2 separate regions of the Homo sapiens genome follow, and region 2 is linked to region 1. Evidence: fine-mapped expression QTL. A gene starts in region 1. The other region holds a variant in brackets. All regions are shown on one strand. Distances are between the middles of the regions. Region 1 holds the start of ECI1 (enoyl-CoA delta isomerase 1). Region 2 has its middle 3.0 kb from the start of E4F1.

Evidence for each region.
Region 2: its variant is fine-mapped to the expression of ECI1 in whole blood (TOPMed, PIP 0.97).

The regions. Positions count from the first base shown.
Region 1 is chr16:2,248,881-2,253,136 of GRCh38, reverse strand. It overlaps ECI1 (enoyl-CoA delta isomerase 1), which reads left to right and starts at 1,550. Exons shown (of 7, transcript NM_001919.4): 1 at 1,550-1,622; 2 at 1,708-1,821. The coding sequence starts at 1,571. RNPS1 (RNA binding protein with serine rich domain 1) reads left to right here. Exons shown (of 8, transcript NM_080594.4): 8 at 1-17. LOC107984839 (a long non-coding RNA gene) reads right to left here and starts at 1,467. Exons shown (of 2, transcript XR_001752052.2): 1 at 1,144-1,467; 2 at 1-155. RefSeq lists enhancers at 1,099-1,158, 2,089-2,218 and a silencer at 1,409-1,878.
Region 2 is chr16:2,218,319-2,222,823 of GRCh38, reverse strand. No RefSeq gene overlaps it. Among named protein-coding and RNA genes, the nearest start is that of E4F1, 3.0 kb to the left of the region's middle. RefSeq lists an enhancer at 2,269-2,893. The variant C/G (reference allele first, on the strand shown) is at 2,259.

The DNA.
Region 1 (4,256 bases):
CAAGATCGGAATGCAAATCTAGTTCTGGGTTCACTGCCTTCTCACTTGTCCCCTCGCCCCTAGTAACTTTCTGTTCCTCACCATCCGCAGTGGCACCTCCGATGCTTTCAGCCAGGAGAACCTAGGGTTTGTGTGCTGTGGGGACCAGGTTGCTCCTAGGGTGGACAAATAGAAGGAGATGGTTTTATCGCCACCTTGGAATGTGTGTGTGTTTTCAGACAGACTCTCGCTCTGTCACCCAGGCTGGAGTATGTACCATGGTGCGATCATAGCTCATTACAGCCTCCAACTCCTTCTTCAGTGTCCAGAGTAGCAGGGGCTAATTTTTTTTTAATTTTTTAATTTTTTTTTTGAGACAGTCTCTGTTGCCTGGGTTGGAGTGCAGTGGCGCAATATTGGCTCACTACAACCTCTGCCTCCTGGGTTCAAGTGATTTTCCTGCCTCAGCCTCCTGAGTAGCTGGAATTACAGGCACCTGCCACCATGCCCAGCTAATTTTTTGTATTTCTAGTAGAGACGGCGTTTCATCATATTGGCCCGGCTGGTCTCAAACTCCTGACCTCATGATTTGCCCACCTTGGCCCCCAAAGTGCTGGGATTACAGGCATGAGCCACCGCGCCCAGCAGCAGGAGCTAATTTTTAAGAATTTTTTGTAGCAACAAGTTGTTGCTATGTTACCCAGCTGGTCCTGAGTCACTGGGGTTACAGGTGTGTGTCACCATGCCAGGCTTGCTTCCTCCTCCGTTAAGTGGCCATTTTTCCACCTCAAAAATTGGTTTGGGACACAAGGAAGAATTGGAAATGCTTAAGATGAGAACAAAAGTTGAGACCACCCAACACAGCTGGGACCTTACTGCCCAGTGCTCCCAGTGGTCTGACCAAAACCCCACACCAGACAGTACAAAGGCCCACTCCCGAGCTGCCGCTTACGGCCCAGCGGGAACAGACTGTATTCTTATCTTTCGGCATTTCTCTGCAAATAAAAAGGTGCCACTGCGGTCCGGCCTTTGTGCACTTGCCCTTGTGCTGAGCAAGGCGGGTGGCCTGTTCTTACCGCTGGGTTCTGCTGCCCCCACCCCCATTTCGGTGACTAAACCTGCAGCTCTGATCCTGTTCCCAAAGGGGCAGGAGGCCGGGCTCACCCCAGGCAGCCCCTGGCCTCCCTGACGGCCCCCTCGGGAGGGGTTCCGTGCTTTGATCGCCTTTCCAGCGCCGATACTGCAGTAGCTGGGCCCGGCCGAGAGCTCGCGGTCACGAACACCGGCAGCCTCTTGCCTACAGTGTCCCGCGCTGTAGAAGAGCCTGCCCTGGCGCTGAGCTGGTCGTGGCTGCTTCAGCAGTGGGCCTGCGCCTCCTTGTAGGCCAGCCCTGGCCCAGATCCAGGTGCCTGCCCCGGAAGCGCGCGGCTGCCCGGGGTGAAGCCGGAGGGCGGCGAGCGGCTGTTTCGGCCGGTAGGTGGAGGCGTTGACCAGCCTCTGGGAACGGGGCGGGACCTAGTTGGGGGGGCTCCGCCCCCTCCCCAGGAGGCGAGCTCAGCCCGCGACCTTTATCCCGCGCGTTGCGGTCAAGATGGCGCTGGTGGCTTCTGTGCGAGTCCCGGCGCGCGTTCTGCTCCGCGCGGGTGCGAAACCCGGGGTGGGCAGGGATCGGGCCGGGGCCGGGGCCAGGACCGGGAACTAACGGGCTCCCCCACGCTGCCTTCGCAGGGGCCCGGCTCCCGGGCGCGGCCCTCGGGCGGACGGAGCGGGCGGCCGGCGGCGGAGACGGCGCGCGGCGCTTCGGGAGCCAGCGGGTGCTGGTGGAGCCGGACGCGGGCGCAGGTGAGCGGGCGGCGCCGAGGGAGGGCGGGCGTGGGGTCAGGACCCGCGGGGGTCCGCGCTCGCGGGGTGCTGTCGGAGAACCACGTCTGTCGACGCTCGGTTTGTGTTTAGAACCCAAGTTTCGAAACAGAACCTTGCCGCTCTACCTGGGTTCGTTCGTCATGAGATAAAAGTTTCTGTTTTTAAAGTTGGCGGAGGCCGGGCGCGGTGGCTCACGCCTGTAATCCTAGCACTTTAAGAGGCAGAGGCGGGCGGATCACCTGAGGTCAGGAGTTCGAGATCAGCCTGGCCAACATGATGAAACCCTATCTGTACTGAAAAATACAAAAGAAAAAAATTAGCTGGGCGTGGTGGTGCGTGCCTATGCCTGGGAGGCTGAGGCAGAAGAATCGCTGGAATCTGGGAGGTGGAGGCTGCAGTGAGCCGAGATTGTGCCACTGCACTCCAGCTTGGGCCACAGAGCAAGATTCCGTCTCAAAATAAATAAATAAATAAAAATAAAGTTGGCGGGGATATGAGCTGTTATCTAAGTTATTCAATTGGAAGTGGAAAAGAATTGGAATCTTTTGGAATAAAATTACGTTTGTTAACACTCCCATGTGGCACAGAACCTCGTACCTACCCGCCCGTCAGAACCCTTGGTAAAACCCACTGGAAAGGATAGAAAAAGTACTTTTGGAAGAGAAGCCTGTGCGCTCCCTCCAGACAGGAGGCCGAGCTGAGGGCACCGAGAGGGCACGCCTAGGCGCCAGCAGTTCTGCTTCCAGGACATGCTGACCTGGACCTCCCGGTGCAGCAGTCCCTGCTGTGGCTCCTGAGAGGAGGCCCTCCCCCTCCGCAAGTAAGTCACAGCCCCTGCCCTCCCCAACCCCCCAGACTCAGGGCTGTGCCCAACTTTGCACAGCTTCAGGACTCCAGGCTCCTGGTGCCTCTGAACTTGGTTCCGTCCTCTCTGTCTGGGCTGAGGGAGCTGCCTGGGCTCTCTCTACAAACTTGAGAGGGACAAACTAAGACCAACTTCAAACTGACTTTTTTTTTTTTTTTTTTTTTTTTTGGAGATGTAGTCTTGCTCTCCAGTCGCCAGACTGGAGTGCAGTGGCGCAATCTCCGATCACTGCAACCTGTGCCTCCTGGGTTCAAGCGATTCTCCCTCCTCAGCCTCCCAAATAGCTGGGATTACAGGGACCCACCACTATGCCCACTAATTTTTGTAAAAACTGAGTTTCTGAAGGGATCATTTCTGTAGCATATTTGAATATATCTCAACAAAATGCAAAAAAAAAAATTATTATTTTTTTTTTTTTGAGACAGAGGCTCCCTCTGTCACCCAGGCTGGCGTGCAATGGCGCGGTTCCGGCTCACTGCAATCTCAGTCAGGCCTGACTTTCTGACTCCAAACTCTACTTTGTCTTTTTTTTTTTTTTTTTTTTTTTTTTTTTGAGACGGAGTCTTGCTCTGTCGCCAGGCTGGAGTGCAGTGGCACGATCTCCGCTCACTGCAAGCTCCGCCTCCCGGGTTCACACCATTCTTCTACCTCAGCCGCCCAAGTAGCTGGGACTACAGGCGCCCGCCACCACGCCCGGCTAATTTTTTTTTTTTGGTATTTTTAGTGGAGACGGGGTTTCACCATGTTAGCCAGGATGGTCTTGATCTCCTGACCTCGTGATCCACCCGCCTCGGCCTCCCAAAGTGCTGGGATTACAGGCGTGAGCCACCGCGCCCGGCTTACGTTGTCTTTTTATATGGTAAAGTGGGGAGGCACTCGAGTAAAAAAATTGTCATTGTACGAACACTTTTCCTTTTTTACCGGAGGTAATGTGTGTGTGTGTGTACATAAAAATCTTTAAAATATGCCTCACATTTACCATTCTAGCCATTTTGCAATGTACAACCCCGTGGCCGTAAGTATATTCACAATGTGTAGTCCACACTACCCATTCCAATACCTTAAGATAACATGTTTTTGAGTCCGGGCCCGGTGGCTCCCACCTGTAATCCCAGCACTTTGGGAGGCCAGGGTGCGCGGATCACGAGGTCAGGAGATTGAGACCATTCTGGCTAACACGGTGAAACCCCATCTCTACTAAAAAATACAAAAAAAAATTAGCCGGGCGTGGTGGCGGGCACCTGTAGTCCCAGCTACTTGGGAGGCTGAGGCAGGAGAATGGTGTGAACCCCGGAGGTGGAGCTTGCAGTAAGCCGAGATCGCGCCACTGCACTCCAGCCTGGGCAACAGAGCAAGAATCTGTCTCAAAAATAAATTAATTAATTAAATAAAATAAATAAATAAATAAATAGGAATGACAACCACATGGATGAACCTTGAACACATGATACTAAGTGGACAAAGCCGACAACAAAGCCCGGCGGTATCCCAGTGATATGGAATATGGCTGGAGCAGGAAAACCGCAGACACAGAACGCAGACTGGCGGC
Region 2 (4,505 bases), 30 kb after region 1:
GTCTCGATCTCCTGACCTCGTGATCCGCCCGCCTCGGCCTCCCAAAGTGCTGGGATTACAGGCGTGAGCCACCGTGCCCAGCCACTTTTTAAATTTTTTAAAATTTATTTGCATTATGTATTTTAAATAGAGACAGGGTCTTGCTGTTTAGACTAGGCTGGTCTCAAACTCCTAGCCTCAAACCATTTTCCCATTTCGGCCTCCCAAAGTGCTAGGATGACAGGCGTGAGCCACGACTCCCAGCCACGTTGAATTTTTGGTTTTGGAGATGGGGGTTGTTTTTGGTTTTTGTTTGTTTGGGGTGTTTGTTTTTGAGACAGAGTCTCACTCTATCACCTAGGCTGGAGTGCAATGGCGCGATCTCACTGCAGCCTCCGCCTCCTGGGTTCAAATGATTGTCCTGCCTCAGCCTCCCGAGTAGCTGGGACTACAGGAGTGCACCACCATGGCCAGCTAATTTTTGTATTTTTAGTAGAGACAGGGTTTCACCATGTTGGCCTAGATGGTCTCAAGCTCTTGACCTCACGATCTGCCCGCCTCGGCCTCCCAAAGTGCTGGGATTACAAGCATGAGCCACCGCGCCCGGCCTGTTTTTGTTTTTTGAGATGGAGTCTCGCTCTGTCACCTAGGCTAGAATGCAACGGCACGATCTTGGTTCACTGCAATCTCCGCCTCCCAGGTTCAAGCGATTCTCCTGCCTCAGCCTCCTGAGTAGCTGGGACTACAGGCAACTGCCACCACACCCGGCTAATTTTTTTATATTTTTAGGAGAGACGGAGTTTCACCATGTTGGCCATGCTGGTTTTGAACTCCTGACCTCAGGTGATCCGTCCCCCTTGGCCTCCCAAAGTGCTGGGATGACAGGCATGAGCCACCGAGCCTGGCCAGATTTTTTTTTGAAACAGCACCTTGCTCTGTCGCCCAGGCTGGAGTGCAGTGCCGTGATCTCAGCTCACTGCAGCCTCTACCTCAACCACCCAAGTAGCTGGGACTACAGGTGCCCATCACTAGCTAATTTTTGTATATTTTGTAGAGATGGGTTTTTGCCATGTTGCCTAGGCTGCTATAGAACTCCTGAGTTCAAGCGATCTGCCTGCCTCAGCCCTCTTACATACTTTTAAAAAATTGTGGGCCAGGCACAGTGGCTCACTCCCGTAATCCCAGCACTTTGGGAGGCTGAGGTGGGTGGATCACCTGACATCAGGAGTTCAAGACCAAGCAGGCCAACATGGCAAAATTACGTCTTTACTAAAAATACAAAAATTATCTGGGTGTGGTGGTGCACGCGTGTAATCCTAGCTACTCAGGAGGCTGAGGCAGGAGAATCGTTTGAACCTGGGAGGCAGAGGTTTCAGTGAGCCGAGATCGTGCCACTGTACTCCGGCCTGGGCAACAGAGCAAGATTCCGTCTCAAAAAAAACTGTGGTAAGTGCACATAAAATTTACTATTAGCGACATTCACAGTGTTGTGCAACTATCACAGCTATGTGGGTACAGAACCTTTCCGGCACCCTGAAAGGAAACCTGTGCCTTTGAAGCAGTGATTCCCCATCCGCCCCTCCCTGCCAGCCCTGGGTAGACGCCAGTCTACCTTCTGCCTCCATGATAAATTTACCTGTTGTGAACATGTCCTACAATATGTGACTTTCATTGTTTGTTTTTTGAGGGTCTCACTCTGTCATCCAAGCTGGAGTGCAGTGGCATGATCTCGGCTCACTGCCACCTCCGCCTCCCGGGTTCACGCCATTCTCCTGCCTCAGCCTCCGGAGTAGCTGGGACGACAGATGCCCGCCACCATGCCTGGCTAATTTTTTTGCATTTTTAGTAGAGATGGGGTTTCACCATGTTAGCCAGGATGGTCTTGATTTCTTGACCTCGTGATACGTCCGCCTTGGCCTCCCAAAGTGCTGCGATTACAGGCGTGAGCCACTGCGCCTGGCCCTGTTTTGTTTGCTTTGAGATAGGGTCTCACTCTGTCACCCAGGCTGGAGTGCATTGGTGTGATCCTAGCAGCCTCCACCTCCAGGCTCAGGTAAGGTGATCGGCAGTCAGGTTGGGGTAACAATGGGCCCGCTTTCTGCAAGTAGGTTGCTCACCACTGCAAGGTTTTGAGCAGAGGGAATGATGGTGGGTGTTGCAGAAACATCCCTCTAACTGCTGCACAGAAAAAGGGACTTTAGGCCGGGCCCAGTGACTCACGCCTGTAATCCCAACACTTTGGGAGGCTGAGGCGGGCAGATCACCTGAGGTCAGGAGTT[C/G]AAGACAGCCTGACCAATATGGTGAAAGCCCGTCTCTAGTAAAAATACAAAAATTAGCCGGGTGTGGTGACGGCTGCCTGTAGTCCCAGCTACTCGGGAGGCTGAGACAGGAGAATGGCCTGAACCCGGGAAGCGGAGGTTGCAGTGAGCCGAGATCTCGCCACTGCACTCCAGCCTGGGTGACAGATCGAGACTCTGTCTCAAAAAAAAAAAAAAAAAGGGGATTTTAGGGCTTAAGCAGAAGCAGGAAGGGGCTCAGAAAGCCACTGAGAGCCAGAATGGGTGGTCTCTGAGTGGGGCAAACAGAACGAAGAGCAGGTTGGAGCTTTTGGAGCTTGAGGGTTCTGGGGAGCTGCTGGGGAGGAGGACCAGGAGACAGGTGGGTGAGGTGAAGCCATGGAGGAGGTGAGTGCAGAGCCCCAAAAGACCTCCATTCATGGTGTGCTGAGGAGTAACTGAGAAGCCGGTATCCAGGGGATTTAGGGGTATGGATGGGATGATTGTCCCCTCTAAACTCATGCTGAAACTTTATCCCCAATGTAACAGCATTAAGAGGTGAGGCCTTCAGCCGCCCCATCCGGGAGGGAGGTGGGGGGGTCAGCCCCCCGCCCAGCCAGCCGCCCCGTCCGGGAGGTGAGGGGCGCCTCTGCCCGGCCACCCCTACTGGGAAGTGAGGAACCCCTCTGCCCGGCCACCACCCCGTCTGGGAGGTGTGCCCAACAGCTCATTTAGAACGGGCCAGGATGACAATGGCGGCTTTGTAGAATAGGAAGGCGGGAAAGGTGGGGAAAAGATTGAGAAATCGGATGGTTGCCGTGTCTGTGTAGAAAGAGGTAGACATGGGAGACTTTTCATTTTGTTCTGTACTAAGAAAAATTCTTCTGCCTTGGGATCCTGTTGATCTGTGACCTTATCCCCAACCCTGTGCTCTCTGAAACATGTGCTGTGTCCACTCAGGGTTGAATGGATTAAGGGCGGTGCAAGATGTGCTTTGTTAAACAGATGCTTGAAGGCAGCATGCTCCTTAAGAGTCATCACCACTCCCTAATCTCAAGTACCCAGGGACACAAACACTGCGGAAGGCTGCAGGGTCCTCTGCCTAGGAAAACCAGAGACCTTTGTTCACTTGTTTATCTGCTGACCTTCCCTCCACTATTGTCCTATGACCCTGCCAAATCCCCCTCTGTGAGAAACACCCAAGAATGATCAATAAAAATAAAAATAAAAATAAAAATAAAAATAAAAAAAGAGGTGAGGCCTTTAAGAGGCAAAGGGGGCCGGGAGCGGTGGCTCACGCCTGTAATCCCAGCACTCTGGGAGGCCGAGGCAGACGGATCATCTGAGGTCAGAAGTTTGAGACCAGCCTGGCCAACACAGCAGAAACCCCCATCTCTATTAAAAATACAAAAGTTGGGCCGGGCACGGTGGCTCATGCCTGTAATCCCAGCACTTTGGGAGGCCGAGGCGGGGGGATTAAAAGGTCAGGAGTTCAAGACCATCCTGACCAACATGGTGAAACCCCGTCTCTACTAAAAATACAAAAATTAGCCAGGCCTGGTGGCATGTGCCTGTAATCCCAGCTACTCAGGAGGCTGAGGCAGGAGAATCGCTTGAACCTAGGAGGTGGAGGTTGCAGTGAGTCGAGATCATGCCATTGCACTCCAGCCTGGGCAACAGAGCGAGACTCTGTCTCAAAAAAAAAAAAAAAAAAAAAAAAAAGTTGCCGGGCGCGGTGGCTCACGCCTGTAATCCCAGCACTTTGGGAGGCCAAGGAGGGCGGATCACGAGGTCAGGGTATTGAGACCATCCTGGCTAACATGGTGAAACCCTGTCTCTACTAAAAAAAAAAAAAAAAAATCAGCCGGGTGTGGTGGCACACGCCTGTAGTCCCAGCTACTCGGGAGGGCGAGACAGGAGAATCGCTTCAACCCGGAGGCGGAGGTTGCAGTGAGCCGAGATCGCGCCACTGCACTCCAGCTTGGGCAACAGAGCGAGACTCGGTCTCAAAACGAACAAAAAAAAAATACAAAAGTTAGCCAGGTGTGGTGACACACACCTATAATCCCAGCTACTAGGGAGGCTGAGGCAGGAGAATTGCTTGAACCTGGTGGGGCGGAGGTTGCAGTCAGCTGAGATGGCACCACTGCCCGCCAGCCTGGGTAACAAAGTGAGACCGTATCTCAAAAAGAAAAGGGCATCCTGATCAGGTGACCTCAGGCCCTGCTTTGCCCAGAGCCCAGGCCACTG